Linked DNA regions of Homo sapiens: region 2 is linked to region 1. Evidence: fine-mapped QTL for protein levels in blood plasma. A gene starts in region 1. The other region holds a variant in brackets. All regions are shown on one strand. Distances are between the middles of the regions. Region 1 holds the start of NAP1L4 (nucleosome assembly protein 1 like 4). Region 2 holds the start of SNORA54 (small nucleolar RNA, H/ACA box 54).

Evidence for each region. A credible set is the group of variants that fine-mapping cannot tell apart. PIP is the posterior inclusion probability: the model's chance that the variant is causal. The UK Biobank Pharma Proteomics Project read protein levels with antibody pairs (Olink). The fine-mapping took linkage between variants from a reference panel, not from the people measured, so its PIPs are less certain.
Region 2: its variant is the best candidate, but not a certain one, in a credible set for the plasma level of the NAP1L4 protein (UK Biobank, PIP 0.62).

The regions. Positions count from the first base shown.
Region 1 is chr11:2,982,578-2,999,073 of GRCh38, reverse strand. NAP1L4 (nucleosome assembly protein 1 like 4) reads left to right here and starts at 6,745. Exons shown (of 16, transcript NM_005969.4): 1 at 6,745-6,820. RefSeq lists enhancers at 6,481-6,775, 7,320-8,176.
Region 2 is chr11:2,962,444-2,976,963 of GRCh38, reverse strand. NAP1L4 (nucleosome assembly protein 1 like 4) reads left to right here. Exons shown (of 16, transcript NM_005969.4): 4 at 841-940; 5 at 4,721-4,862; 6 at 5,430-5,516; 7 at 7,030-7,161; 8 at 12,213-12,284. It overlaps SNORA54 (small nucleolar RNA, H/ACA box 54), which reads left to right and starts at 13,071; the gene lies at 13,071-13,193. RefSeq lists a silencer at 10,438-10,638 and an enhancer at 11,346-11,845. The variant A/GAGAGGTCTGTTA (reference allele first, on the strand shown) is at 10,551.

The DNA.
Region 1 (16,496 bases):
TTTGTATTTTTAGTAGAGATGGGGTTTCACCATATTGGCCAGGCTGGTCTTGAACTCCTGACCTCAAGTGATCCGCCCGCCTCAGCCTCCCAAAGTGCTGGGATTACAGGTGTGAGCCACTGCGCCCAGCCTAGCAATCAAGTTTTTAATGTAAGACGATAAAATATCAAAGAAGTCAAGGAAAATCACTTTACTATTAAATACGAATTAGAAAAAACAATATGAAGTAACTTGTGATTTTAAAAAGTAGATTGTTTCCTGACTGTGTAGATGGGAAGGGTGGAGAAGCAAGGCAGCCCTGGTGGCACTGAGCAGCCCCAGCCCCGATCTGGGGCTCTAAACCCCATCCCACCCCCTGGAGAAATGGCCAGTTCCAGGTCTGCAGCAGCAGGAGTAGCTGAGCCCAGGCACTCTTGTGCCCCAAAAGGGGAGCTTTCGAACACCAAGAAGTCAGGTCAGGAGGACACTGGACAAGGTAGTGACACATAGCAGCTGGGTGGTATGTGTCAGGGGCATTCTGCTGGGTTTGGAAAAGCCACCCCTGAAAGGTTGCATGCCATGTGATTCCACGTAGATAACATTCTCAAGTAGGAATAGAGAACAGATGGTGGTAGCTGGGGTTAAAGATGGTGGGGGGGCGGGGGCAGGTGGAGGGGAGTGACTGCACAGGGACAGTAGGAGGTGGGGTTGGTGGGGAGGGCACTTCTGTGTTCTTGTTTCCATGGTGATCACACAAATCTGCATATGTGATAGCACAACGTAGAGTCACACACATTGTACCAATGTCAGTCTCCTGTGTTGATCTTGAACTCTGGCCAGGCAAGGTGTGACCATCAGGAAACAAACTGTGCAGTTTTCTGGAAACCTATAATTACTTTAAGGCTTCAGGAGCTCCTACTGGCTAAGTTTGGGACAATTTGAGCATTGAAAAGAATGATTCCAGCCAGGGCAACATAGCGAGACCCTGTCTCTACTAAAAGTCAAAAAAATTAGCCGGTGTAGTGGCGCACTTGTGATCCCAGCTACTCAGGAGGCTGAGGTTGGAGGATTGCCTGAGCATGGGAGGTGGAGGCTGCAAGTGAGCTGCGATCATACCACTGCACTCCAGTCTGGATGGCAGAGCAAGACTCTGTCTCAAAACAAAAAACAAAAACAAACAAACAAAAAAAAAACTCCAGGCATCTGTATTTATTCTCAAAACTAGAGAAAGCTAAAACATATTGTCGTTACTGGAGGTGGCCTGTGTCAGCTCCTTTCTGTAGAGTTACTCATTAGTGACAGAAGCAAGTATTTTACCTTGCATGGGAAGTATATTTCAGGGCCACCAAATGGCCCTAGCTGAAAGGGGAAAGTTGTTCTTTCCCCCAAAGATGCCAGCTAAGGGAAGAAGCACCAGGATCAGACATCTCCATTCTGCAACCCCGAATGAAGTCATTGATTCAGGCAGGGGCTGACCGCGGATGCTGAGACCCCTGGATGAAAGCTGGTAGGTGCTGGATAATTTGATGCCAAAGTGTCACCTTGTGAGTAACTTGTAGGTTTCCAGGAGGGGATACGTGTTACTTTCTGATGTTGGGCCCTGGCTGTCAGCCCCCCAACAAAAAGAAGGATTTCCTCTAAAAGTATAAGTCAGTATTGAATGCAGCTTTTAGGCTAGGGCTCCTTAACCTTGAATGTGCGTATAAACTGCCCAGGGTTGCTTGTTAACACAAATTTCAGTTCAGGTCTAGGAGGAGCCCAAGATTCTGCATTCCTGCAGTCTCCCAGCTGTGGCCTGTGCTGCCGGGCTACAGCCCCCTCAGGAGCAAGGCTGTCCAGCTCACTTCCTGTCTGCAGGAAATACTGGGAACAGAGGGAGAATGCAGGTGAGGCCATGAAGCAGCCACCACATTTGTGCAGAAGGTGGGGCATTCTGCCAGATGCCCGGCTGGCATCTTCAATACGTCTGCGTCAAAGGGAGCAGAATAGGGCAGAAGAGAAGGACTGGGAGAGACTCGAGAAACAAAACCACCAGGTTTGAGGGATAATCTTTGAAGGATTTGAACAAACCTGCTGTAAAGACATTTCAAAGGGGGTCGGGCACAGTGGCTCATGCCTGTAATCCCAGCACTTTGGGAGGCTGAGGCAGGCGGATCACCTGAGGTGGAGAGTTCAAGACTAGCTTGACCAACATGGAGAAACCCTGTCTCTACTAAAAATACAAAAAAATTAGTTGGGCATGGTGGCACATGCCAGCTACTCCGGAGGCTGAGGCGGGAGAATCGCTCGAACCCGGGAGGTGGAGGTTGCGGTGAGCCGAGATCTCGCCATTGCACTCCAGCCTGGGCAACAAGAGCGAAACTCCGTCTCAAAAAAAAAAAAAAAAAAAAAATTTCAAGAAATTTGAATGACCAGGTATTGGATGACAGTCAAGATTTTTGCTAATTTTGTTAGTGTGATAATGGCGGCTGCATGGAGAGGTGTCTTTAATGAGATACAAAGTAGCCTGAAACCTGTAACTCAGTATCCTTTAGCCAAGGAAACTGATGAAGTGCAGCCGGCACTGCAGCAGCAGCAATCCCTTCCACAGTGTATCCTCTTTACTGGCCTGTGCTGGAAACCATGTATCAAATATCCTGACAACTGGGCCATGAGGAAATACCCTTGTCTTTAGCTGCCACCACTGGGGTGAGCGGAGGTTGGCCCAAAGCCGCGGTGCCATCCAAGGAGGCAAGAAGGAGTGGCGTGTGCCCCATTTCCAGTGGTGGCTGCACAAAAACGTATCCAGATTGCCAGGGGCACGCCTGGTCCCCACAGCTGGTGAAGGCCTGGCTCCACCTGGACTGCAGTAGGGCCAGGCTGTGGCCCCTGTTTCACGCCCCCCAATTCAGAGTGATTCTGGGCCGCTTTTCTGCCTGGAGTTTCCCCGTTCTGAGGGCCCACTGCCCGGTGCGCCTTCTCTCTGCCCTTCCCTGACTTCCTCCAGTCTCCCCAGGCTGGGTCCGAGGGCCTGCAGTGACAATAGGCTGGCTGGGCCCAGGCCATTGGCTTGGCCCCCAAGAGGACCCCAGCACCTCCCTACCCTGCAATCTCTTGCTGTCAGGCTGCAGCAGATCCTTCTGGAACAACGTGGGGTGGACACTTTTCTTGTATAATATTAGTTTGCCTGTGGAAAGTGTTTCTTTTCTGTACATGAAAGCTCTGTTCAGCTGTAAGAGCCAGATTTACATCTTCCTGTTTTTCCCCAAAGAGCAATCTTTGGTGTCTTTACTATAAAAACGTCATGTATTCATTATTTAAAAATAAATAATACGGAAAACTTCCAATATAAAGTAGAAACTGAAAGACCCCGTGCCCTACCTCTCAAATCCCTACAACATTTGGGGTACAGTCTTCCAGATGCCTTCTTTCTGAGGCCGGGAAGCTTGCAAAGGCACTCCCTGTCTGCGCACCCCTCTTGTGTGGAGTACGCCATGGGTGTTTTCTGTTCTCCATATACCAGGAGAAACCAGCCACCTCTCTTGGATGTCTCCAGGGCCCCACTTTGTTAATGCCCCACAGGCTGAGCCCCCAGCCTACTGAGGGGGCTTTGGGCATTTCTGAGGCCTCGGCTCCAGCTCTTGGCGGCTGCGAGGTCTTTTGAGGAGTAGCGCCCCCACCACAGGTGAAGGGCATGGCCGCCCCCTCCAGGGCCAGAGCCACTTAGCTGGGGGCGTTAGAGGGGTTTCTCTGTTTTCTCCTCTGTTGAATGGGGCAGTGATTGCTGCCTCTACTTCCAGGCCAAGGTGTAGCCATTGTCAGTAGCGCCCAGGTAAGGGCACAGCTCGCCAAGTGCCAGGCACTTTTCCGGGTGCTGGCAATGTGAAGAAGAAACACGTGGTGTCTGTCCGGGACTGTCTCCCGGAGCCTCAGTGAGGACAAGGCAGCCAAGAGCAGAACTACAGGCAAGGTAGCCTCTGGAGGGGACTCTTGATCTCCAGGTTGGAGGAGGCTGAGGCAGCAGAGGGGTTGTAGACAGGTGGGCTCATGCCTGAGGCCTGGCAGAGGCAGCGCTGGGAAAACAGGAATGAAACTCACCAAGCGCCAGCTACCCTGGGAGTCCTGATCCCAGTGGCCCTCAGCTCTGGCTGCATGTCAGTGTCATCTGGGGACTTCTTTGTTTTGACACAGGGTCTTGGTCTTGCTCTGTCACCCAGGCTGGAGTGCAGTGGCATGATCACAGCTCACTGCAGCCTCTAAATCCCAGGCACAAGTGATCCTCCCACCTCAGCCTCTCAAGCAGCTGGGACTATAGATGCACCACCATGCCTAGCTAATTTTTAGATATTTGGTAGAGATGGGATCTCATCATGTTGCCCAGGCTGGTCTCGAACTCTTGGGCTCAAGCAATCTGCCCACTCGACCTCATTACCTAATTGCATCTGTGAAGACTCTATTTCCAAATGAGAATCTTCCAAGGAGAGAAACCACCAACCACCAAGAGAAAAACACCACCACCACAATCATTCCAGTTCCAGCAGATCTCCCAGGGAGCAGGTCCAGCTGCCCCCAGCCCCAAGGCCCAGCTCCCTCAGAGGATCCACCCACCCGGATGCCACCCCCACCAACCCCAACATCCAGGAGCAGGGGGATCCCATTACTGCAAATGGTCTTGAGACTTTATTAGATGGGAGGAAGGACCCTCCAAACTTCAAATGCCCAGGTTCTTGTGTCATTTCTATCATTGTTTATGCTTCCGCAAAGCATAAAGCATGACCTTTGTAGAAAAGTCTGAAAGTCTAAATAAGTAAAATAGGAATTGAGAGCACACACACCCTCTCCTAAAACACAGATGGCCAGACAGGACTGAGCACGCTGTGTGGGTCAGGCCTCAGCCATGCACCGGTCACCTCTGAGGGGTTTTTATGTTTTTTGTTTTAATTAGTTTTTTTTTTATTTTTTATTTTTTGAGATGGAGTCTCGCTCTGTCGCCCAGGCTGGAGTGCAGTGGTGCGATCTCGGCTCACACTGTAAGCTCCGCCTCCCGGGTTCACGCCATTCTCCTGCCTCAGCCTCCCGAGTAGCTGGGACTAGGGCGTCCGCCACAATGCACGGCTAATTTTTTTGTATTTTTAGTAGAGACGGGGTTTCACCGTGTTAGCCAGGATGGTCTCGATCTCCTGACATCGTGATCGGCCCACCTCGGCCTCCCAAAGTGCTGGGATTACAGGCTTGAGCCACCGCGCCCGGCCTTTTTTTTGTCTTTTTGAGACAATGTCCCCCTCTGGTTACCCAGGCTGGAGTGCAGTGGCCCAATCTCTGCTCACTGCAGCCTTGACCTCACGGGCTCAGGTAATTCTCCCACCTCAGCCTCCCAAGTAGCTGGTATTACAGGCCTGAGCCACCACGCCTGGGTAATTTTTTGTTGTTGTTGTTTTTGGAGCAGGGGAAGGGTGCTCTATGTTGCCCAGGCTGGACTTGTTGCCTCTGCCTCCCAGAGTGCTGGGTTTACAGGCCTGAGCCACGGCGCTCCGCATTAATTTCTTTTTAGAGATGAGGTTTCACTATGTTGCCCAGGCTGGACTTGAATTTCTGGGCTCAAGGAATCCTCCTGCCTCAGCCTCCCAGCTTACCTCTGAGGTTTATAACCGACGCTATGTTCTTAATCCCTCAACCAGGAGCCTTTAAATGGTTTCAAATTTTCCCCATTACAGGAATAACTTGCTAATAATAATAATAATTAGCAATTGTTTCAAAAGTAACGTCATCCCAAAAGAGAACGTTTCTGAAAAAAATGCACATTAGACTTGAAGACCCCCAATGGCACGGTTGAACATGGAAATGAACCAGCCTCAAAAGTCCCAGCGTAGGGGTTATTTTCCAATCAAATTGGATGCCTTTCTACAAAATGTGATGTGCACAGGCTGGGGCTGGTACCTTCACCCCAGCCCAGAGGGCACCATGAGAGGGAGAACAGGGCGGGCGAAACAGGCCAGCTCCTCCCCAGCCCTCTGCCCTGCTCTGCTTCAGGGGGCTGATCTGAGGGCCCAGTGCGCACTGCTTTTCCTCCTTGTCCGACAGGGTCTCCCGCAGGCCAGAACTAGGCTGCTGGGACACTGCGGGGCTCAGGGCGTGGGGGAAGAGATGCAGGCAGTGGCTAGTCCCGTCCTGTCCGCGGAGGTGACCCAGCCCCGACCTCTTCGCAGAGGAAGTGTTCTCCAACCTGGGACCTGGGGGATGAGCGGGGGTTAGGCTTACGTCCCAACCACTAACGGGGCTGGTTGAAAACGGCTCCCAGGCGGAGGGGCCCTCCGCGATGTTCTCAAGGAGTAGCGCGAGGGGACGACATGGGAGGTGGGGTTCTCACATCAGCGGGCGCACGGAGTGCTGGAGGCACCGACCCGCCGCGGACGGGATTGAACTAGGGAACTGGGAGGGCGCAGGAGATAAAGACGGCTGGGGCCGGGGCCCACGGAGAGGGGTGGTGCCCAGTGTCCCGCGAGGATGTGGTGCCACCCGGGGAAGGTCCCGGGAGCGGGGACCCGGGACCCCCCGGAACCACACACGCGGTCTCCACCTTGCCCCGCCCCATTTAAAGAGGCGGAGGAACGCAGGGCGCGCGCCGCGCGGAGGAATATTTGCATATGGCGCGGCGTTTCTTCGGAGGCTTGTGATTGGTTGCTGACTGCGGCGCGAAGCGCAGTTGACTTGCGCCGCGCTCGGCGAATCGCAGCCTGTCTTGCTCGCGGAGAGAGGAGCTAGGAGCCTCGGCCAATGGGAGCCGGCGTTGTTGGAGGCCACGGCGGCGCAGCCCCAAAGCGAGCGAAGCTAGGGTCGCCGCCACTGCCGCAGGAGGCGTGAGGTGCGGAGACACGGGTGCTGGGCCGGTAACGGCGCGCTGGGGAGGGCGGCCGGGCCCGGACGGGCGGGTGGGGCCGCGGGTCCGGCGCGGGCGCGGCGGCGGCCATCTCTGGAAGCCTCGGGGCGGTGGGGCAGGGGCGGGGCCGCGTTCTGGTCGGGGCAGGCAGCGGCGGCCGCGGCGGGGCCTGGGGCTTGGGGCCTGGAGCCCGGGCCTGGGGCGCTGGCGGGAGGCCCCTCCCAACTCCCGGCGCGCCTCGCCCGGCTGCCCGCCTCACTGAAGGTCAAGGCGCTTTGTTCTGCGCCGCGGGCGGCCTCCTGGGCGGCGGCCCCTTGGAGGAGGCGAAGACGGCGAGAGGCGGCGGCCGCTCAAATCTCCCGCTAGCCCAGCCCGCCCCGCGTGCGGGGGCTGTGGCGGTTACACGGCCGGGCGCGCCGGAGCGTTCAGGCTTCCCGTTTTTAAGGTGGAGACGTCCAGGACTTCTTTATTAGATGTTTAGGAATTTGAGTTTTTCCGTAGGGCGGTTGTCATCGTGAGCCTCTGTGGGGTCAGGCTGGGCTAACTGGGGTTTTGATGTCAGTTTGGTGTGGCCGAGGGCATGTCTGACGGGGAAGAAAGTCCTTGGCGTTGCTTCTTAGCTGTTGGGAGCTGTGCGGTGGGAGCGAGCTGGGCGGCGTGCGCTCCCCGAGGACTGGCCTGAGTGGCCTTAGACTAGTTACTCACGGGACTTGGTTTCCCAGCCAAGGTGGGCAGCAAGTCTGTTTACTATTTAAAACCGTCTTTCACAAGGGAAAAGCAAAATCTCCAAAAAAAAAAATTGTACATGTTATGGATGGGAAAGTGCCATGCTTTTCTTTCAGTTCAGAGATGGTGGAAGAGGTCACATTTGTATTTTTTGACCTGACCAGAGTCTTTGTTGTTTTCAATTTTCCCCTTCTGAATGCTTTCCGTTCACCCCAGCGAAGGATGGCCTGGTCATGATAAGACTTTCCACCGTCCACAGTTCTCTAAGTCTGATTGCGGGGCAGGAGGCAGACATGTTTAGGGTCCAGTAAAGGGGACTCCAGCCTTGGGACCTTTAGACCCTAACGTGTGTGTCACATCACCTGCCTGGGTGACTGTGCGCTCCTCTGGCAGGAAGGTCCGCCATTTCATTATGTTCTCGGAGGAATCGTCGGGGCACATTCGTCTGTGCTTTGGTTCGCATCCCCCAGTCTGCATTACTTTTTCCTGTAGTAACCCGTGCCTTATCCTCCTGCATTAGGTTTACGGGGTGAAAATAGACTTTTAAAAATTCTCTTACCTTAGAAATATACAAATATGTAGATTAGGTTGTTGGACCTTAAAGGTAAGTCTTTCTAAGTTACTACCTTCCTGTAATAGTAACTATACCTCTAAATGACTAATACCTGCACTGCGCACCAGGGACTCTTTCAGCCTGTTTGCGTGTGTTAACTCATTTCATAATCTAATAACCTGAGATAGATGCTATTGTTTTTCCATTTAACTACTCTGGAAGCTGAGGCCCTGGGAGGTTAGGTATAATGACTTGTCCGAGGTGACAAAGCTTAAAGACCCAGGCAGTTTTAACTGTACCCAGGGTTACTGCTTCTGTAGAGGGAATGAAAGAAGTTTTAATGAGAAATTGTTTTCATCATTGTGCTAAGCTTAACTGAACTCTAGCTTACGAGGTTTTGAGCTGGTTGATCATTTCCATCTCAAAATTCTCTTATTCCACAGAATGCCAAATGCCTCCTATAGTAGAATTTTGAGATTCAGACTGGGATGAGCAATTGCTAATGGAATAAATAATATGCAAATGTAAAATGAAGTTCAGAGAAAGCAACGTGGTGATAGAATGGGAAAGTAATCCAAAGATAAAATGAGTGACTACAGAGAGAGAGAAAATTAGTTATTTAGTAGTAGTTCACAAGTTTACTTAGAGATATTTTTACTAGAATTTCAGGGCCTTATGATGTGATTTTTATGAACCATTTTAACACGTTACTGCCGTCTTAAATAGCTGTTATTACATATCCAATTGCAGTCTTTTTTTTTTCCTGGTTGAGCAGTGTTAGCTTCAGAATGTCTGCAGTTATTTGTGCCTATATGTCATATAGGCACATATAACACTTTTGTGAATTTTGTTGTGTAAGCTTTAAATCCGGTACTGTTTTTCAAAATGAATATGGAGTAGTCATTGGAGAAATTGGTTGAATTCTTTGCAGTAGCAAATAAATTTTAATCATTTTTAAGTTTGATAACTTTGGTAAACTGAATTCTGAAAAGTTTACACATGTTTTAGGATGTCCTCAAAATGTACAGGGCATTGTGTTTTGCAAATTAGCCATTTAGCCATCAGATTCTTCTGTAGAATTTTGATCTTTTTGCCCATATGAGAGGTAGTTCTTATTTGTATGGAGGTTAAGTACCTGCGGATGGGATGTGTTCATCACCACTTTACAGTATGAATTTGAATTTGAAACTGAAATGAAAACTTCCTAACCTGTCAGAGTTTTTAGTAGCCTCTTGTTATTGACCGCATGTTAATTCCCTTTGTTAGCTATTCGCAGCTAAGTGTGGGGACTGAAATCTTTATTTTGTTTTCCTTCTTTTGAGCAGTTGATAGTCTCTAGCATCAGGAGGAGGTGACCTCAAATATGTATGTATATATAGTAGTGCTTTTCTTCCTTCCCTTTAGTTGTCTGCAGTTTAAAAATTATTGTGATAAGTTTATGTTGTACTTCCAAAAATGTTGCCAAAGAGCCTATATTTTTCAGTTTGTTTTGGAAGAAAAATACTTTGTGGGCAAGAAGGTGATTTAAATTCCTGACGGCCTAAGAGGCGTCAGCTGTGTGAAATAGGCGAGTGCTGTTACTGCTTGAAACCATGATGGTTTATATTTGAATAAGACAGCAGAGATGAGCTTGTTGGGAGTTTGGCCTGAGATTGCTAGCTAAGGAATGCTTGCTTTTTTGCTTAAAGGGAAAAGTGTTTTAGGCTTCCAGAGTAGAAATCTGATATTACTTCGTTTGATTCTTCGACCACTATGGTGATAGGAAGTAGCTGATCTCTGCAGGAAACTGCTGTTACCTGGCCTCAGCTGAATTTTTGTGGGACCTCCTGAGGTAAGCAAATTTATGCCTCCCGAAACTATAGTTGTAAGGTTTGTCTTTGAGCATATAGTAATGGAAAACCCTTATCAGTAGGTAGATAGTAAATAATTTTGTATTTGGCTGCTAATGAAATTTTTAAGAAATAGTTTGTGGTGATATAAATTAGTTTTCATCTGGCAGTCATTGGTTTTCCACCCTGCCCTCTTAAGAGAGAACAGGGTTGCTTTACTTTGTTTGCCAGAGCTTTACATTTTGCATTTAGTAACAGAGGCATTGTGTTTTTATAGTATGAAAACAACGAAAGATCACTTTGTGATCTTTACTTTTTGATTTTGACCACTTCCTGTGTAACCTTAAGTTTCTTACAAGTATCCCCTGTTAACTGTTAAAAACGAAATGTATGTTCATTTCATGTCCTTGGGACTTTTAAAAATGCGCTGTGCATTATCTGGAAAAGCCTGTTCAAAAACAAGATGAGATAATTTCTGTTTAATTTGTGGTAGAAAGAATGACTGTGCACTTTTATGTGCAAAGGTTTTAAGTATAATAATTAAAATAGTACTTGTTTACTCAGTTACCGAAAAGTAGCTTTCAGTGATTTGCATCTGTTTACTTATTCATGAGCATCTTCTATGTACTGGGCACAGTTCTAGGTACTGGGGCCTCCCGCAGAATAAAACAGAAGTCTTTGTCCTTGTTTCTGCTATGGGAGACAGACGAACAAGTTCAATGGTGGCAGGTGCTTTTGAAAAACAGTGCAGAGGAGTAGGGACTTTGGTGGTTGCAATATGAAATAGGTAGAGAGGGAAGTGCCTTATTGACAAGATGACAAGATCTTTTAATATGTACTGGATTAAGAAGTTAGCCTCATTGAGTCGTATGCTAATGAACTGCCCAGAAAAGAAGGGTGGAGGAGATGGGAGTGCAGCAGTAAAGACTGCTGCGCCCCAAGTAAAATGTAGTGTTTTGGTTAAGGAAAGGAAATCATTTTTTGCTTTCTTCTTGAAACCCCAGGGCTTGGCACCGCAGAAGTCTCTGAAGAGACAGTCTGCTGCTGTTTGGAGGCAGGTATTTCAGTAGATCTTGTAACCAAACATGAATGACTAAGGCAGTGTTTCTCCTCTGTGTCTTCAGAAACTGCTTGAGATGTGTGCATGCAGTCCCGGGCACCATGCGTGCTGGGTACTGGTAACACAGAGACAAGTTGTCATTTGGTAGCAGTGAGTTAAGCAAAGATTTCTTGGCAACCAGTCTCATCCCGAGTCTGTTGCTGGGCCTTGGGACTTCTGTATTGAGCAAGTAGACAGGGTCCCTGCCCTCGTGGAACTTGTTCTTTAGTGGGCAAACATGTATTATTCATTGCTTTTTTTTTTTTTTTTTTTTTGAGGTGGAGTCTCGCTCTGATGCCCAGGCTGGAGTGCAGTGGCGCGATCTCGGCTCACTGCAGCCTCTGCCTCCCAGGTTCAAGCAATTCTCCTGTCTCAGCCTCCCAAGTAGCTGGGATTACAGGTGCTCACCACCACGCCTGGGTAATTTTTGTATCTTTTTAGTAGAGACGGGTTTCACCATATTGGTCAGGCTGGTCTCGAACTCCTGACCTCAGGTGGTCTGCCCACCTGGGCCTCTCAAAGTGCTGGGATTACAGGCGTGAGCCACCGTGCCCAGCCTATTCATTGCTTTTAAACATTATCATGGGCCTGGCATGGTGGCTCACGCCTGTAATCACAGCACTTTGGGGGAAGCTGAGGTGGGCAGATCACCTGAGGGTCAGGAGTTTGAGACCCTCTCCCGCCTTGGGTGACAGAGCGAGACTCCACCTCAAAAAACAACAACAACAACAAAAAACCCAGAACATTATCATGGAAAGTTTAACAACATGATTAACTTCTGATCCTGGAGAGTGGTAATGATAGACTGGATCAGGAGTCTACTGGCCTGGGCAATAGAAATGAAATCTGGACTGTCTCAGGGCTTCGTATAATCACCAGCTTTTGTGGGTGGGGATGTTGGGGTGTCCTACAGGGGTATCTTGATTCCTTCTGAGAACAGATCATTTCTTTGTCCTTTCTGATGTCCTAATCTAAAACATCCAGTACTCCTGGAGGATTTGAACTTGTGCCCAATGGCTGGTCAGACTCTCTTGGATTGAGAATGTTGGATTGCCATTCCTCAGACTGAATGTGGGCCAAGCAATTGTGCTTTAGAAATTTATCTTAGAGTGCGGTGGCTCATACCTGTAATCCCAGCACTTTGGGAGGTTGAGGCAGGTGGATCACCTGAGGTTGGGAGTTCGAGACCAAGTCTGGCCAACATGGTGAAACCCTGTCTCTACTAAAAATACAAAAAAAAAAAAAAATTAGCTGGGCATGGTGGTGGGCACCTGTAACTCCAGCTACTTGGGAGGCTGAGGCAGGAGAAACTGGGAGGTGGAGGTTGCAGTGAGCCGAGATCGCGCCACTGCACGCCAGCCTGGGCAACAAGTGCGAAACTCTATCTCAAAAAAAAAAAAAAAAATTTACTACCATCCCTAATTTTGTAGGATATATAGGATTTGTAAGGAAATTATAAGGAGTCTTGTGAAAACATTAATTACATTTGAATTAATTTTAATCCTTCAGTTATCTCCCATAAAGACATTGAGGACCTTTGAGTTTATTAAGACAGAGTAAATATATAAAAGTTTTGGGGAGTACGACTACACTCTCTAGCTTTGTCTCTCAAACGTGGCCCAATTTTTTTTTCCTTTCTTTTTCTTTTTTTTTTTTTTGAGACAGGGTCTGGCTCTGTCGCCCAGACTGGAGTCTAGTGGGGCAATCTTGGCTCACTACAACCTCCGCCCCCCAGGTTCAAGCAGTTCTCCTGCCTCAGCCTCCTGAGTAGCTGGGACCTCAGGCGTGTGCCACCATGCCCAGCTGATTTTTGTATTTTTAATGGAGATGGAATTTCACCACGTTGGCCAGGCTGACCTCGAACTCCCGACCTCATGTGATCCGCCCGCCTTGGTCTCCCAAAGTGCTGGGATTACAGGCGTGAGCCACCGTGCCTGGCCATGGCCCAATTTTATAGTTACTCTAGCTATGGAGTAGATGTTTTCAGTTCAAAATTAGGAATTTAAGGTTATATTTTGTTACAAAAATCTTTAAAAATTTCATAAGAAAACAGTTGTTTGGGGTACAAAGAAATTAATCCATAAATAGGATTGTTACAGTGACTAATATAAATAAAAGAACATTTGTGTAATCATGGGAATTATTTTATTTTATTTTTCCTCGACCCAATTAACTGGGTGAAAATTTGCTTGCCAGTTCAGATTTAGAATTGTAGACACAGTTAAAGTTTTTGACCTTGGGAGGGAACCTGAACTTTAGAAAACTTACAACATTCTTTTGCCTGGTATCCCTTTCATAATTTAACTTGATTGTCTTTTATTTATTTTTAGTTATTATTTATTAACACAAAATTATATTTATGATGTATAATGCGATGTTTTGAAGTACTATACATTGTGGAATGGCTAAGTCAAGTTAATTCACATTAGGTGGTATACTGATTCTGACAAGAACACTTAACATCTACTCTCAGCAATTTTTCAATTATGTGATACATTGTTGTTAACTATAGTCACCAGGTTGTATAGATCCCTTGATTGCCTTTTAAAAGTGAGAGAACCTTCTGGATGAGTCTTCGGGCTGTGGTTTTATAAGACTAGTATTAAACTGAACATAACATTTAAAACAAACAGATATTTATTTTCCTCAAACCTGTATATTTGATAGTTCCTTATAACTTTCTGTTTTAAGGGTGATAGGGATTGATAAACAAAAATAATTTGTGGTGCTGAAACTTGACTGAACTCTAGCTTGTTTATAATACCACCTCTCTACATTGTCTTTCCTTATTCAGGTTGAGCACTCCTGATCCCAAAATCAAAAATCCAAATGCTCCAAATTCTGAAACTCCGTTAGTGTTGACATTAATGTTACAAGTGGAAAATTTCACACCTGACTTCACGTGATGGATCACAGTTAAAACTTTGTTTCATGCACAAAATTATTTAAAATATTGTATAAAATTACCTTCAGTCTATGTGAATAAGATGTGTGGGAAACGTGAATGAATTTCATGTTTAGATTTGGGTCCCATCCCCAAGATACCTGATCATGTTTATACAAATATTCTAAAATCTGAAACACTTCTGGTCCCAAGCATTTCAGATAAGAGATACTCAACCTGTATAAAGGGTGCAGTGTTTAAAGTAACTTGATTTGTTGGTTTCATATCAAGGAATAGATGTAGTCTATATGCATGGCAGTTACAAAAGTGAAAAGAGACCTGGCCTGCTGTTATGTACTAGGAAATTTGTCTCCATTAACAGTTTCTCAGGTAGCCACTGTCTTCTAGTTTGTGGATGATGAAACTGAGGTCCAGAGGAAGGTTATGCAGAAGAGCATGAGTGGGAATGAGTATGGGGAAGTAGACAGGGCCTGAATTGGTAGGAATGTGTATTCTGCAGAAGGTGACGGGGGACCATTGAAGTGTGTTTGTTAGTTTTTTGTTTGTTTGTTTTTTGAGACAGAGTTTCGCTCTTGTTGCCCAGGCTGGAGTGCAATGGCGAGATCTCGGCTCACTGCAACTTCCGCCTCCTGGGTTCAAGAGATTCTCCTGCCTCAGCCTCCTGAGTAGCTGAGATTACAGGCATGCGCCACCATGCCCGGCTAATTTTGTATTCTTAGTAGAGACGGGTTTCTCCGTGTTGGTCAGGCTGGTCTCGAACTCCTGACCTCAGATGATCCGCTCGCCTCGGCCTCCCAAAGTACTGGGATTACAGGTGGGAGCCACCACACCTGGCCTTTGTTAAAGGGTTTTTAAATCTTCACTGACTAGGGCTGGGTTTGGGTTGCTGCTGTGGTCGTGGTGGTGAGCATAGCCAGCCATTGTAGGGTTTGTTGCCTTTTTTTTTTTTTTTTTTTTTTTGAGGCAGGGTCTTGCTCTGTTGTCCAGGCTGGAGTTCAGTGGCGCAGTGATAGCTCACTGCAGCCGCCAGGCCTCCAACTCCTGGGCTTGAGTGTTGCTTCTGTCTCAGCCACTCAAGTAGCTGGGACCAGAGGCATCAACCACTGTGTCCAGCCTCATTTTTTTTTTTTTTCTTTTTGTTTTGAGACAGTCTCACTCTGTCTCCCAGGCGGGAGTGCAGTGGTGTTATTTCAGCTTACTGCAACCTCTGCCTCCTGTGCTCAAGCGATTCTCCTGCCTCAGCCTCCTGAATTGGGACTACAGGTTCACACCACCATGCCTGGCTAATTTTGTTTTTTTTGTTGTTTTTGTAGAGACGAGGTTTCCCCATGTTGCCCAGGCTGGTCTGAAACTCCTGAGCTTCAGGTGATCTGTGATAGGGGTAGGATTTGAAACCAGGCTGTTCAGTGTGTGTCTGTCTTGTTCTAGGCATTGAGTTCTGGGTTGGTTGGTTCTTTAGTCAAAATTATTTTCTTTTTTATTGTGTAAATTCATTATTTTTTTTCTATCCTTGATTTAGCACTTTTTTTTTTTTCCAGAATACCGTGTTGGGTTTAACTTAACTGCCTTGTCATCTTGTTAACAAAAATTGTATTAAACAGCACATGCCGGGCTGGGCATGGTGCCTCTGTCCTATAATCCCAGCACTTTGAGAGGCTAAGGTGGGAGGATCACTTGAGGCTAGGAGTTTGAGACTGCAGTGAGCTATGATCCTGCCACTGCACTCTAGCCTGGGTAACAGAGTGAGACTGTGTGTCTCTTTAAAAAAGCACAGCCTTCACTTAAATGAAAATTGAGTGAATCATTTTATCAATGGACTCTGTTAAGTTGGAACAGGTACCATTCCATGGGAAGGTGAACCTCTTTGGCTCATGTCCTAACACAGGTGGTTTATGCTTTCAACAGATATTTATTATGCCAGGAACTGTTAGGGGCTCTGGGGCTGCATAGTGAACAGCATCAAAAGGGAGTATTGTCACACTCCATTTGTAGACAAAATGGATTTCTTGGAGATGCTGCTGAACAGTAGGATTTCAACCCTGACTAAGCTGTTGCTTGTCACTTGTTCCAATAGCAGCAACAGGTTTTTTGTTTTTTGTTTTTTTTTGAGATGGAGTCTTGCTGTGTTGCCCAGGCTGGAGTGCAGTGGTGCAATCTTTGCTCACTGCAAACTCCGCCTCCTGGGTTCAAGCAGTTCTCCTGCTTCAGCCTCCCAGTTGCTGGGATTACAGGCGAGTGCCACCATGCCCAGCTAATTTTTGTATTTTTAGTAGAGACGGGGTTTTACCATGTTGGCCAGGCTGGTCTTGAACTCCTCACGTCGTGATCTGCCCGCCTTGGCCTCCCAAAGTGCTGGGATTACAGGTGTTAGCCCCCAGGCCCAGCCTAGCAGCAACAGAATCTTTAATGAGCAAGTAGAAACAGCCAGAAGTGAAGTGGTGTTGGTACTAGGGAAAGGTTAGAAGGAGTCAGATTTGAAACACGAATGCATGTTTTACTAGCCGTGTGACTTTCAATTTGGCACCTCACCTTTCCAAGCCTCAGCTTCT
Region 2 (14,520 bases), 21 kb after region 1:
GGAGAATACTCGGGTATGTACTGGCTCTAAGCAAGGGAAGGGCGCTGGGTTTGGATTTCTGTATTGTGTCATTAAGAGGGAGATTGTTAAGAGTCTGTGTCATGAGCCAGATGTCTGCCACTTCATAGTCACAACTGGGTAAAAGGACAGTCACTACCTTGTCAGGATCTCATTCATTGGTTTATTGGGAAATGGGCTTATAAATACAAACAGCTTGGTATTGTGAGCTCACTACACATGTAGGTTAGCCCTAAGTGGGGTGGAATGGTCAGAAGTGCTTCCTGGAGGGAGGTGGGTTTGGGCAGAAGGACATTCAAGGCAGAGGCGAGTAGCACATGCAAAGAAAACTTAGGGAACAGTGCTGGCAGAGAGCTAGTGAGCCTTGGGCTCTCCTGGACTGTGAAGTCTATGGCACCACAGTGAGCAAGGGAGCTAGTGGATGCTCTTTTACTTTGAGGAACTGATCTCATCTCTGTTCGTGGCTTCTGGACACCACCATGGGACTTGGGGGTAGACCATGTGAACTTACATTAATGATGTCCTCAGTTGTTTAAGTCTGGTGCTTAAACAGCCACAGTCCTGGTGAGAGCCAGGACTCTCTAGGTGTTTATTCAGTAAATTTGTAACTACCCATCAGGTGATTAACCCAGAGTGTTAAATGCTCTTAAAATAAATTTTAATTATTTTCAAAACATGTTTAAGAAGTCACTGGTGTATGTATTTAGAAATTAGTAGATGTAAATCTAGGCAAAGCTAAGTAGATATGTTACTAATTTTTGACTCTTGGCTATTGTGTGTGGTGGGCATATTTTAAATATGTTTGGTCTTAACTCTTCATAGAAAAGCTCACAGATCAGGTGATGCAGAATCCTCGAGTTCTGGCAGCTTTACAGGAGCGACTTGACAATGTCCCTCACACCCCTTCCAGCTACATCGAAACGTAAGTGTGCTGTGAATAGGGTCTCATGCAATTTGGAGAAACAAAAGGAAAATAAAGGAAAAACCACTTTTCAGTTCCCCAGAACAGGATTAAATGTTTTTTTCGTTCCAAGACATTGTCTATGAGAGACAGGCACTGGGATATGAGAGGAGTGACCCTACCCGGTGCCTAGGCTGAGAGTTTGCCTGGTGGATGGAGTAGCGTGACCTGTCAGTTCTGATAGGAAGTGCACAGTGCCATCCTGTGGAGGGCTAGAGGACTTCACAGATCATCTGAGTTGGAGAGGACAGCTGGTGGCTCCTAAGTTAAACTAAGAGAACCACTCCTTCCTGACTTACCCACATGAGCCTGTGACACCAACACCTTAAAAAAAAAAAACTGGGCATAGTGCCGCATGCCTATGAGTTTTCACTACCCTCCAGCCTGGGTGACAGTGAGACTGTCTTTAAGAAAAAAAAAAAGATGGGGTCTCACTGTATTTCCTAGGCTGGTTTTGAACTCATGGCCTCAATTGGTTCTCCCGCCTCAGCCTCTCAAAATGCTGGGATAACGGGTGAGCTACCGTGCCTGGCTGACACCTTTGCTTTCTTAAGAGAGGCCTATGTGCTAGATGTATTGCACTATGAAAATGATAAGGGTGGTGATCCTAGAATCCTAGGATGGCTCTTGTCAGGACCTCTCTTACTTCTGGAAGGAATTTTTGGTTTTTGAGTTGGAGTCTCACTGTTGTTCAGGCTGGAGTGCAGTGGCATGTAATAGTTCATTGTAACCTTGAACTCCTGAGCTCAAGTAATCCTTCTACCTCAGCCTCCAGAGTAGTTGGAACTATAGGCATGCACCACCATGCATGGCAATTTTTTTTTTTTTTTTTAAAGGGATGAGCTGTTACTGGGCTTCCATCTATAATTGGGTCAGGGCTTGGTCTCCCAGGAGGCCCCACCTTCCAGCTGGTTTCCCCAGTCAGGACTGCCAGGGCTATTACGACAAGAAGGGGACATTTATTTTTTATTTTTATTTTTTGAGACAGACTCTTGCTCTGTCATCCAGGCTGGAGTGCAACTTCCGCCTCCCGGGTTCAAGTGATTCTCCTGCCTCAGCCTCCTGAGTAGCTGGAATTGCAGGTGCACGCCACCACTCCCAGCTAGTTTTTTGTAGTTTTATTTATTTCACTGTACGTTCTGGAGTAGATGTGCTGAGTGTTCAGGTTTGTTACATAGGTATACATGTGCCATGGTGATTTGCTGCACGTGTTTTTTTGTTTGTTTTGTTTTGTTTTGTTTTTGTATTTTTAGTAGAGACAGGGATTTGCCATGTTGGCCAGGCTGATCTCCAGCTCCTGACCTCAGGTGATCTGCCCACCTTGGCCTCCCAAAGTGCTGGGATTATAGGCATGAGCCACTGCGCCTGGCCTAGAAGGTGACATTCAGAGTTTGCTTTGCCCATTTAGAAGCTTCTCAGAGATTACTTAGTGGGCAAGGTGTTTTGATGTTATTTTTTTTGCAGACTAGATTGATGGGATGGGGTGATACTGAGTGGGAGTGGCAAGAATGAGAATGAGTAATGGTTTCTAGTTTTCTCGCTTTAGAAACTGGGTTGGTGGGGTGGCATTCTGTGAGAGGAACTGCTTGAGTGGGATCAGGTTTATGTGGGACTAGAAGTGGTTCCATATTAGCCATATTGCAGGAAAAGTGCCGGCAGAGGGCTGGGTGTAGTTGGTGTGAATGATTGAAGGACTGTTGGGGGCACACTAGGGTCCAGTTTGTTTAACATCCTTTGTCTAAATGACGAGTTAATGGGTGCAGCACACCAACATGGCACATGCATACGTATGTAACAAACCTGCACGTTGTGCATTTGTACCCTAAAACTTAAAGTATAATTAAAAAAAAAAATCCTTTGTCATTTTACTTCAGTTGGAAAGCTTCAAAAATTAAACTAATTTAAAATTGTATAATTAGCCAGGCATGGTAGCTCACACCTGTAATCCTAGCACTTTGGGAGGCCGAGGCAGGCAGATTGCTTGAGCTCAGGAGTTCGAGACCAGCCTGGGCAACATGGTCAAACCCCTACTCTACAGGATGCAAAAAAATTAGCTGGGCATGGTGATGTGCCCCTGTAGTCCAACTATTCAGGATGCTGAGGTGGGAGTATCATTTGAGCCCAGAAAGTTGAGGCTACAGTGAGCCGAGATCGCACCAGTGCACTGCAGCCTGGGCAACAGAGTGAGATCCTGTCACAATAAATGAATGAATGAATGACCAGTGCAGAAAAGGGGTAAAAATGGCAGTGGGAGTCTACCATTTTGTTAAATTCTTTCTGCTTTTCCCTTTTTTTCATCTACTACTAGCAGTAGTTCTAGAATGTTAAGCATTATTTGAGAGTCTTTGCTTAAACTAAGGACCTTTAGCTTGAGGTAGCTGTGGTTGTATTTCACCCAGGAGAGTGGTCCTTTGGGATGCAAGGCAGTTGTTCTAATACCTCCCAGACCAGTGATATGTGTGTGTGACTTGCCTACTGCTCTGTGCTGTCTGTTGTTGGAGGGTAAGTCAAGTGCTTAGACTTGAAGACTCTGATTGTGTGAATGAGTATTCAAGATGCAGGACCCAGGGCCCTGCCCCAGGTAGATTATTTGGGTCTATGATGAGGCCAGGAATCTGCTGTTCAGTCCACATGATTGTGACCAGGGGCTTCGTTTTGAACAAATAGTTTTGATGGGTTAAACAAGGATTTTTCTTCTGATTTATAAAAGTTATACATAACAACTATTTTTTAAAACATAGAACAGAATTGAAAGGCAAACTCATAGTTGACCTGACTCTCCAGGACAAAGTTGTGTTGCCTGTGGTCTGTGTTTCTCAGATTTTTTCCTCCAGTGTGTTAACAAGTGTGGATTCCCACGTGGCACTAAATATTCCTGGACAGTGTGATTATGAATAGGCCATATTTGAATGCTGTTGCACTTGCATTGTCCAGTTTTTCACTTGTACAGATCTATCGACGGACACTCCAGCATAAATACTTGATTAGGATAAATTTTTTTTTTTCCTTTTGGTAAGATAGGGTCTTGCTCTGTTTCCCAGGCTGGAGTGCAGTAGCGCAATCATAGCTCCCTGCTGCCTTGACCTCACAGACTCAAGTGATCCTCCCACCTCAGCCTCCTGAGTAGCTGGGACTACAGGCGCACACCATCATGCCTTGCTAATTTTTTAAAATTTTTTTGTAGAGAGAGGTCTTGCTGTATTGCTCAGGCTGGTCTTGGAGTCCTGCCCTCAAGCAATCCTACCTTGGCCTCCCAGAGTGGTGGGATTACAGGCATGAGCCACTGCGCCCAGCCTTAAGGATAAATTCTTAGAAATAGAATTACTGGGTCCAAAGAACATTTTCAATATTTCTGCCCTTCAGAAAGATGAGTCAGTTAGAGGGCTTCTTGGCCCTTAGCCTCGTAAAACCTGGGTGTTTTGTTTTGGTTTTTAATTGCCAATTTGGTAAGGAAAAGCTGAGTGTTCTTAAATGTTTGCATTCTTTTGGATATTTTATGAAATTGAATCTTTCTTCATGTTTGACAATTTGTGTTTTTTCTTTTGTGAATTATTTTTTCTGCTTCCTCCTGTATCCTTTTTTTCCTGTTGGGGTATTGTCCTTTTCTTAATTTTTAAGAGGTCTTGTTCATAGTAAGGATGTTGATTCCATGTTAACCTAAATTTATTTTAATAAAATTGAAAAGCATGCTGCTTTATTTTGCAGGCATGAGGATGTTGTATTTCTTACTCCCTTTTTTAGTTTACCTAAAGCAGTAAAAAGAAGAATTAATGCATTGAAACAACTTCAGGTGAGATGTGCTCACATAGAAGCCAAGTTCTATGAAGAGGTACATGACTTGGAAAGAAAGTATGCAGCGCTATACCAGCCTCTCTTTGACAAGGTAGGGAGCTCTGTTAATTTAATATACAGATAGTTTTCAGCTTACGAAGGTGTTAGGTTCCGATAAACCCATTATAAGTTGACAACATCTAGGGTAAGAACGCATCTAACCTGCCAAACATAGCTTAGTCTAGACTACCTTAAACAAGCTCAGAACGCTAACATTAGCCTGCAGTCAGGCAAAATCATCTTCCACAAAGCCTATTTTATAATAAAGTGCTGAGTATCTCGCGTAATGTATTGAACCCTACACAGAGAGAGGAACACAGTGTGGCTGTATTGGTGCCCAAAGTGTGATGGCTTCTGCACCATCAGGAAGTTGAAAATCTTTAGCTGAACCATTGGAAATCGGGGACTGTCTTTATTTTACATCTTTAGGTGAAACATCCAGGTTTACCCAGGGAATCATTTAATATTTTTCTTTGAACCCTAAAATTTAGAATCTTAAAATAAGTTATAAAAATATCCAGTTTTCAAAGTCTTTTAGTAGACATTATTTATAAATTTAACTCTTGAGTTCCTAAGTAAGCTAATAACATAATTCTAATAAGGTCTCATTTTTATGTAGAGAAGAGAATTTATCACCGGCGATGTTGAACCAACAGATGCGGAATCGGAATGGCACAGTGAAAATGAAGAGGAAGAGAAATTGGCTGTAAGTCTTTAGAAACATGTGACTCATGTTCTGTTTTAATACTGTTAAAAATAAGCATTTTTTAATGATTTTTAATGACTAGTAAACTTATGTGCTTCTAACAGTAGGTGCTGCTGCATCATTAGGTTGGGTTTAGATTCCTTTCTGATATGGATCTAGCATCTGACACAGTACTGTCAGTTAATAGGAGTAAGATGTAGTGCCACCTCAGTTATCTGTGGACAGGAGCATATTGAAATAAGGGATCAGACCAACAAAGATTAAAACATCAGAGAAAGCAAAGATGAAGAAGAGATGCCCCTGTGTTCTCAGTCACTGGAAGATTGGGGGAGTTGTGAGGGGAGTGCCTTCCTGCTCAGTGGCATGGACTAGCTTGCCCCCTGAGAGGTGCTCCGCCAGTGGATTGGTTGCAGATGGTGGTTGTGGTGTGGCCATCAGTCACCTGCTCACAGCCTTTTTCTAGTGACTGGTCCCATTCCAGTGCTGTGAAAACTCCCAGTGTACCATGGATTAACTTTGTCAGCCTGATTTTATGTTTGGGAGACAAGTAACTTTTATCCTATAACTAACTTTTTGCAGTTTTTTTTTTGGGGGGGGGGTGGTATATGATGATTTTGGTAGCCATATGTGTTTTTGATGCTTTAAAAATATATAGAACCTGGCCTAATTGAAGCCATGGCTGTGGATTAATACAGTTGTGAATCAGTTTCTAACAGCTCAAGGGAAATCTGCCTTTGCTGATTTAAAAGGCCTTTCATTTCAAGATCATTTCATCATAACAATCCCGTTTGGCAAGGCATTCAGAATTTCCCATAGTTGCATCTGGTGTTGCGTTTCACCTCCCTTGGTCTACCTTTTCCCTGGGGCCTGACTCCCCTTCCTTTTGCCATGTGGCCTTTCTGGTCACTTTCTGATGCTTGCGTGGTGTCTGAGCTGGCATTTATAGCCACTTCCTTACAAGCTGGATAAGTTGCTGAGCACTTTCTTGCTGCAGATACTGCTGCGGCAATTTTTTTTTTTTTTATTTCAACTTAGCACCCCACAAATTTTAACAAGAGGTCAGATTATTAGTCCAAGTGAACTTCTTTATCCTTGCACTGGACTTTTTTTGCCCAGTGCTAGATGTTCTGCATATTTGCATTGCATCTCCTTAAGGTTGATGTACAGTCTTTGCATCTGCATTTGTGATGATGATTGTCTCAGGATGGCACCTCACAGAGCTAGCACTGGATGGCCTTTCCCAGCGTCGGTGGCACTTTGTCATCTCTTTAGTTTCTTCGCCTTTGATGTGAAATGGTACGGAATTCCGTGTGGATGTAATGACTTGAATGCTTTTTCCTCAGAAGCATCTGAAAAGTGTCGCGTGGCCCAGTGAGTGGTTTGGAGGTGCAGACTTAGAAAGCAAGGTGTTTGATGGGAGATAGTAGAGGATTCGGCAACGATATTCTACGTGAAGCCGCTGCATTGTTTGTAAACTTTTATTTTCGTTACCTATGTTGCATCTTTTTTTTAGGGAGACATGAAAAGTAAAGTAGTCGTCACAGAAAAAGCAGCGGCAACGGCTGAAGAGCCAGATCCCAAAGGAATTCCAGAGTTCTGGTTTACCATCTTCAGAAATGTGGACATGCTGAGTGAATTAGTCCAGGTAAGCACACTTCTGTCTTGTAGAGAGATTATGTGCTAGTCTTCTAACATTACTTATCTATGGCATTTTTTAAGCACTACACTGGGCATTGAAAGATTGTTCATAGTGGGCGGAAGGGCACTTTCTCTGACCAGGACCTCAGATGAGCAGTCCTGATCTCACAGTGAATGGTTTATTCACAGTGGGGCTTCCATGCTGTCTTTTGCAGTTCTTGGTGGAAAGCTGGGCGCTTCAGCCTGATCCAAAACTTTCAAATCAGTTCCTTTTACCTCTTGTAAAGCTCTGTTGTCTTGCCTGTGGGAAAGCCTATGAATAGATTCCAGAGCCCATCTCTGTCTTCCTGTGGTGTGAGTGTGCAGGAAAGGGTGAGGGCAGGAGACCAGAGCAGAATGAATTTTGAAGGGATGAGCTGTGTGTTTGTTTGTGTGTGTGTGTGTACACACACATCTCAGTGAATTTTTGAACAAGTTGCTAATATTTTCTGATCATTTCTCTTGAAAAAGTGTCTATTTTTTTTAAAAAAAGAGGCCAGGCATGGTGGCTCATGTCTGTAGTCCCAGCACTTTGGGAGGTCAAGGTAGGCAGATCGTTTGAGACCAGCCTGGGCAGCATCGCGAAATCCCATCTCTACAAAAAATAGAAAAGTTAGCTGGGCGTTGTGGTGTGCGCCTGTGGTCCCAGGTACTTGGGAGGCTGAGGCAGGAGGATCACCTGAGCCGAGGAGGTTGAGGCTGTGGTGAGCTGTGATCACGGTGCTGCACTCCATCCTGGTGGGTGACGAGACCCTGTCTCCAAAAAAAAAAAAAAAAAAAAACAACACAACAACAAAACCCAACCACCATTTCTGATTTTGTCTTGCCTTGACATTTCACTTTCTGTAGTGAAATGGTGAACAAATTAAAAGGTAACAAATTTGGTTTTCCCTGAAATGAGTTATAATAGAAGTTTCTAGAACAGAGAAACAAATCTTGCCTTAAGTCTCACTGACTGACTTGCCGTCAGTTTTTATTGCTCCAGCGTCCCCAGAAACAGCACGTCTGCATTCAGACTTGCTCAGGACAGCTGCAGGCTCTGCTTGTGTGGGCAGAGTGCTTCTCCCATCACAGAGCATAGGCACTGTGCGTTGCAAACTGCTACATTGTAATTTGCACAGGATTTTACAGCTACGGTTTTTAATGGTTTTCACAAATGTATCACATTGCTGCCTCTGCTACCTCCCTTGTTTAATGCTTGTCCTGTGTCCTAAGCCAAAACTTGAGAAAAGATGGAAAGAATGATGTATTTCTTATTCTCCTTCCAGACCAGAAAGCATCTAAAATAGAACAGCCTTGGTTTTTCCTGATCTGAGCTTCCTTTTCATATGAAAAGGTGGAATTTAAGAAGACTAGACCATACTTTTAAAAGAATGCCATGCACCAGAATTTCATTGGAAAAATTAAGTAATGTCTACCAGAGCCGTAGTCTCACCCTGTGTATTACAATCACCTGAGCAGCTTTGAAAACTAAATAGCAAAAACTAAATGCCTCATCTGTCACCATGGCACTGAGAGTTTTGAGTTGGTTTTAGGAACTCTAATGTGCACCCTGAGAGTTGAAAATCTCCATGGCAGGGAGCAGGTGGAAAGACTAGCTCTTAGTTCGTTCTTCTCAGACTTCGGGGGGCATGGGGAGTGGCCATGGCAGTGCGGATTCTGGTTCTGTGGGGCTGTCTGGCTCATGGGCCCTGGGGTGATTCTTGCACTGCAGGGTTGGAGCATCTTCACGTGGGATTGGGGGTGCAGTGATAACAGGGTTTGGGAGCTAGAGTTAGGTGACTTGAGTGAGTTTTGGTGTCCCCTTCTGTGCGTGTGGCCACCTGGTTATGGCATTGGGGTCACTGGCCATGGATAGTGCTGCCTTGGGTTTTGAGAGCACAGTGAGGCATTTGGCCACATTTTAAATGGGGTGTCCCTTCTCATTCTCCCAGCACCTCTGTAGTAGTGTCAGTGCTTCAGCATTTCAGCCATGAAGTGTCTTTTGTTGCTTTTTGTTTTAACAGCTTTAAAAAGATATGCAGGGGTTGATAGAGTACTCATTTAATATGCAGAGAATGAGGAAATGTTATTTGTACTGTTTGTAACCTCATAGCAGGTAATGGTAGCATATTCTATTTTGATTTTTTTTTTTAACAATATTTTCTTTTTTTTTTTTTTTTAACGGAGTCTCGCTCTGTCGCCCAGGCTGGAGTGCAGTGGCGTGATCTTGGCTCACTGTAAGCTCCACCTCCTGGGTTCACGCCATTCTCCTGCCTCAGCCTCCCGAGTAGCTGGGACTACAGGCATCCGCCACCACGCCTGGCTAATTTTTTTATTTTTAGTAGAGACGGGGTTTCACTGTGTTAGCCAGGATGGTCTCGATCTGCTGACCTCATCATCCGCCTGCCTTGGCCTCCCAAAGTGCTGGGATTACAGGCGTGAGCCACCGTGCCCGGCCAACAGTTGTTTTTTAATGTCTGGTTTTGAAGTCTGCCATTTCTGAGAGAAGCCCTTTCATTTTTAAGGGACATGGTCTTGCTATGATGCCCAGCCTAGAGGTCAGTGGCTTTTCATAGGCACAGTCAGGACACTGCTGTCTCAGTCTCCTGGCCTCAAGGGGTCCTCTCGAGTAGCTGGGACTGTAGATATGCGCCACTATGCCCAGCTCATTTTGGTCAAATATTAAATTCCAAAGGCGGATTAACTCTGAGTCCCTTTGTTCTAAATTTGGGGATAGTTGAAATATATTTCTGCAAGGAGAGTGGAAAATTTGAGATGGTGGCTTTACGATCTGAGTGCGATGCCTCCAGTGTTGTGCCTTTGCTTCCTGAGTCTGAGCGTCTGCCAGTGTGGGGCATTACCTTAATATTTGCCCTGGACATTTAAAGTTTTGACCCACAGGGTACATGGCTGCTTGAGGAAATTAGAACATAATGGTTATTTTATGAAGTTTGGGAAAACATGAGTGGGCACTGCGTCTTTGAGTGGGATGAGTTTGAAGTCCCAGTGCCATCTCTGGAAAGCATGCTGGTGGAAGTGCTCATCTTGGTGATCTAGAGCCAGCGCATGCTTCTGTGGGTGGCACGCGCAGCATTGGAGACTGAACATCGCATGCAGGTGTGGCCCATTTCACAACTGCCTTTGGGTTACTTTTTGTCTAGATACTTGCAGGTATCTTTTTGTTGCTGTTTTTGTTTTGTTTTATGTCAGAAGAGTTGAAAATTAGGACTCAACGGAAAATCAGGCACAGAAAGGGGGGAAATACCTCACGTTCACACTCATGTGGGAGCTACAAAAACAGCTCACCGAAGCAGAGAATTGTTGATAAAGGCTAAGAGGGAGAGAGAGGGGAGGATAAATAGGGAGAGGTCTGTT[A/GAGAGGTCTGTTA]TCAGATACAGAGTGACTGCTAGATTGGAGGAGTAAGTTCTGGTGTGTTGTAGCACTGTAGGGTGAATGTGGCTAACGATAATTTAGTGCGTGTTTTCAGAAAGCTAGAGGACGGGTTTTGAATGTTCAAAAATAAATGTTTGAGGTGATGGTCCTGATTTATTACACATTGTGTACGTGCATCAAAATGTCACTGTGTCCCATAAATAGTACAATTATTACATACAACTAAAAAAGAGAAAAAATGATTTAAGAAAAACTTAATGCAACTTCAAGACATTTTGAGATTCAGTGCCCAGACTTTGGGGGTAAAGAAGTGACTGCCATGTTACAAATGAAGTGCCTGCTGCCAGTGCGTGTTTCTGAGGATTCAGGTCTTCCCACTCCTCTTCTGACTTTCCTCACTGGGACTTTCTAAGCTGACAGGTATTGGCAAAATGAGTTTAAAGAAATATCACTTGTAAAATGATACAGACACAGATAAGAATTGTACGCTCTTCCATGATGCCCACTCTTCCATGGTGCCCGCAAGTTGGATCTCAGACACGCTCTGTGTAAGTGTTCTTAAAGAAGTAACCGTGTGTGGCCGGGCGCGGTGGCTCACGCCTGTAATCCCAGCACTTTGGGAGGCCGAGGTGGGTGGATCACAAGGTCAGGAGATCGAGACCATCCTGGCTAACACGGTGAAACCCCGTCTCTACTAAAAATACAAAAAATTAGCCGGGCATGGTTGGCGGGTGCCTGTAGTCCCAGCTGCTCGGGAGGCTGAATCCGGGAGGCGGAGCTTGCAGTGACCAAGATCACACCATTGCACTCCAGTCTGGGCAACAGAGCCAGACTCCGTCTCAAAAAAAATAAAGAAGTGACTGTGTGTATTGTGAGTTTTGGATACAGTCATGAGCCACATAACACATTTTGGTCACAACAGACTGCATATAGGATGGCGGTCCTGTAAGATTATGATACCATATTCTTACTGTACCTTCTCTGTGTTTAGATACACAAATAAGTACCATCACCAGCTGCTTCCAGTATTCAGTACAGTCCCATGCTGTTCAGGTTTGCAGCGTAGGAGCAATAGTGGATAGTAGGCTGCACTATCGAGGTTTGTGTAAATATGCTCTGATGAACACACGCCGAATTGCCTAACAATGTGTTTCTCAGGAGGTGCCCCCATTGTTAAGCCATGCACAACTTTATTGCCACAGGTGGGGAAGCTGGCTGCCAAGGCCGTAGCCGATCTAGCCTTCTCTTCTGACTTCCAGGCTTCTGCTCTTTCTCCTCAGAGAGGCTGAGGACCAACAGTCTTGGTTGGTAGCATTTCTGATCTCTGTGTGCAGTGGCAGCTGGTGGCAGGAAAGCAGTGAAGGCCCTTGCCCCAGTATTGCAGGCAGGCGGGTGTCAGTGGCACTGCCCTTTGCTGGCAGTGGCAGCCACCGTTGCTCCACACTAGGGAAAGGGGACACCTTGGTGCTGCTTCTCTATGACAGGGAGTTGGTGAATAAGTCTGGGTTTCTTCCTGGTAGTTATTACTTTGACAAGGACAGAATTCCAATAGGGCTAGTTATGCAACATCTGGGAGCCTCTGCAACCATGACTCTTCGGGAGAGATGTGTTGTTTTTTTAAAAGCCTGTTGGAATTTTTTTTCTCTTTTTGATTAGGAATATGATGAACCAATCTTGAAACACCTGCAGGATATTAAAGTGAAATTTTCTGACCCTGGACAGCCTATGGTGAGTACTGACTTGACCTTCTGGTTGGCATCAGACAGGGTCAGTCCACAAAGATGGAAGAACTTGGAGCCAGGGGCAAGAAACCCACAAAACCCACACCCAGCCACTCATCTGCTGGGCAGCCCTGGGCGAGACTGCTCTCCAAGAGTTAGACTGAGTACCGCATTGTGTGTTTGCTCCCTGAGTTCGATGGGGATCCCATTGCCTTTCTGTGTCATGCTTGGCACTGTAGTCGTGAGTCTGTGCTGGATGATTTGACAGTGATGCAGACCATGTGATGCCCCAGACCCTGCAGCCAGGTGGGCACCAATGCAGGAGTCAGGCTGCAACTCCTGGGCTGTAGTGGTGCTGTCCACTGTGCCAGGCCTTGGTCTTGTAGTTTGTTTGTTTACTCTGTTGGGTGGAGATGATACCATTCTTTTCCCAAGTGTCTCTGAAGTTTGCATGCATCTAATGTATATGTTTAACGTTTAAAAAGATGGGAGCTATGTACACATAATGATCAGCACTTATTCAGAAATCTGAACCTACTAGGTTTTACCCTAAAAAAAAAAGCGCAAATAAGACTGAAAAATGTTTTCCTGCTCTTTGATTTGTCCTGAAACACGTCTTTACAATATGCTTGCCATGGCATATCATTGCATTAGTAATGTTAGTGGCATGGATCAGCCTACCAGTTGGTAAGATAAGCTTGACTAGGTCAGCCCTTACTTTTATCTGAGGAACCATATGCTCATCTTCAAATGGCCTTGCCAGACTGTCTCATCCCAGCCTGGTTCTCCCAGGGAGCACTGTTCGTAACCCGTTAGCCTGGCTGTAGCTAATGGGTTCCATTCCGGTGCAATAGCATTTCCAGCGACACATGACTGACTGACTGGTGGCTTTCAGTTTCAGGTCTTGGAGACAAATGCTGCATGACGGGCTGTGGGTTAGGGATCTTGGGTGTGGGTGATGGTGGTAGGGGCCTGGGGCCAGTCACCAGTATCTTCCTTCCTCCCCATCTCAGCACTGGGGCCTGGGCTAATGGATGAGGGCCACTAGGAGTGGGATTTCTTCACTGCAAGTGCTGCAAGTAATGCCTGGGGCAGCAGCAGGGGTGGGCAGTGGATGTACCTGTATCTGTCTCTTCTACTTTTTCCTGTCTGTTTTCCACTATGGAAGGTGACATTCAGGTGTCCCTCTCTAGGTGGGGCCCTGGGAGCTGGGAGTGATGCCTGCTCACCAGCTGGGGGCTGCCCTCCAGAGGGGATACCCCATCTTCCTTGCCCCATGTGGGTTATAGCAGGTCCTTCTTCCTGGGCTTGCATCACTTCTGTTTAGACTTTATCACAGGGCCCCCAGGAGCCGCCTGGGCACGTCTGCCTAGTTTGCCCTCGTTGGTGTGCATTCTCTTCCCCATGGTGTGAGCGTGCGGTGCTTTAAGTTTCTGTGCGTTTTTTCTTTGTACTTCTTTCTTACCTGTGATTCATCCAGACGCAATTAACTTTTTTTCCCTTTTGGGTCAGTTCCTTTTTTTTTCCTTTCTTTTTTCTCCTTTTCTTTTCTTCCTTTTTTTTCTTTTTTCTTTTTTTTTTTTTTTTTGAGACCGAGTCTCACTGTGTCACCAGGCTGGAGTGCAGTGATATGATCTCGGCTCACTGCAACCTCTGCCTCCTGGATTCAAGCGATTCTCCTGCCTCAGCCTCCCGAGTAGCTGGGACTACAGGCACGCACCACCACGCCCAGCTAATTTTTGTATTTTTAGTAGAGACGTGGTTTCACCATGTTGGCCAGGATGGTCTCAATCTCTTGACCTCGTGATCCACCCGCCTCAGCCTTCCAAAGTGCTGGGATTACAGGCATGAGCCACCACACCCGGCCTCTTTTTTTCTTATTGGACACCTGTTTGATGATTTCCTAGGTCAATTTTCTTTCTTTCTTAGCCTGTCATCTTATTTTTCTCCATCTCATTGTGACTCATAGACTAGAGCTCTGGTTATGGTAGACTGTGGACCAGTAATTTTTTTTTTTCTTTTTACTTCCCTATTATAAAAGTCATATGTAGAAAATACAGGCAAGTGTAAAGAACACTATACAAATCTGTCTTCTAAAAGTAAATCTCAGCAGCTTAGTGAATTTCCCCATACTCTTTTTCCTTTGTAAAATTATTATGAAGCGTCTAATGCATTTTAAGTTATAAAGATAAATGAAACTTCAAAATGAGTCTTGACTGGTGTTTTTGCAGCATGCCTCATTC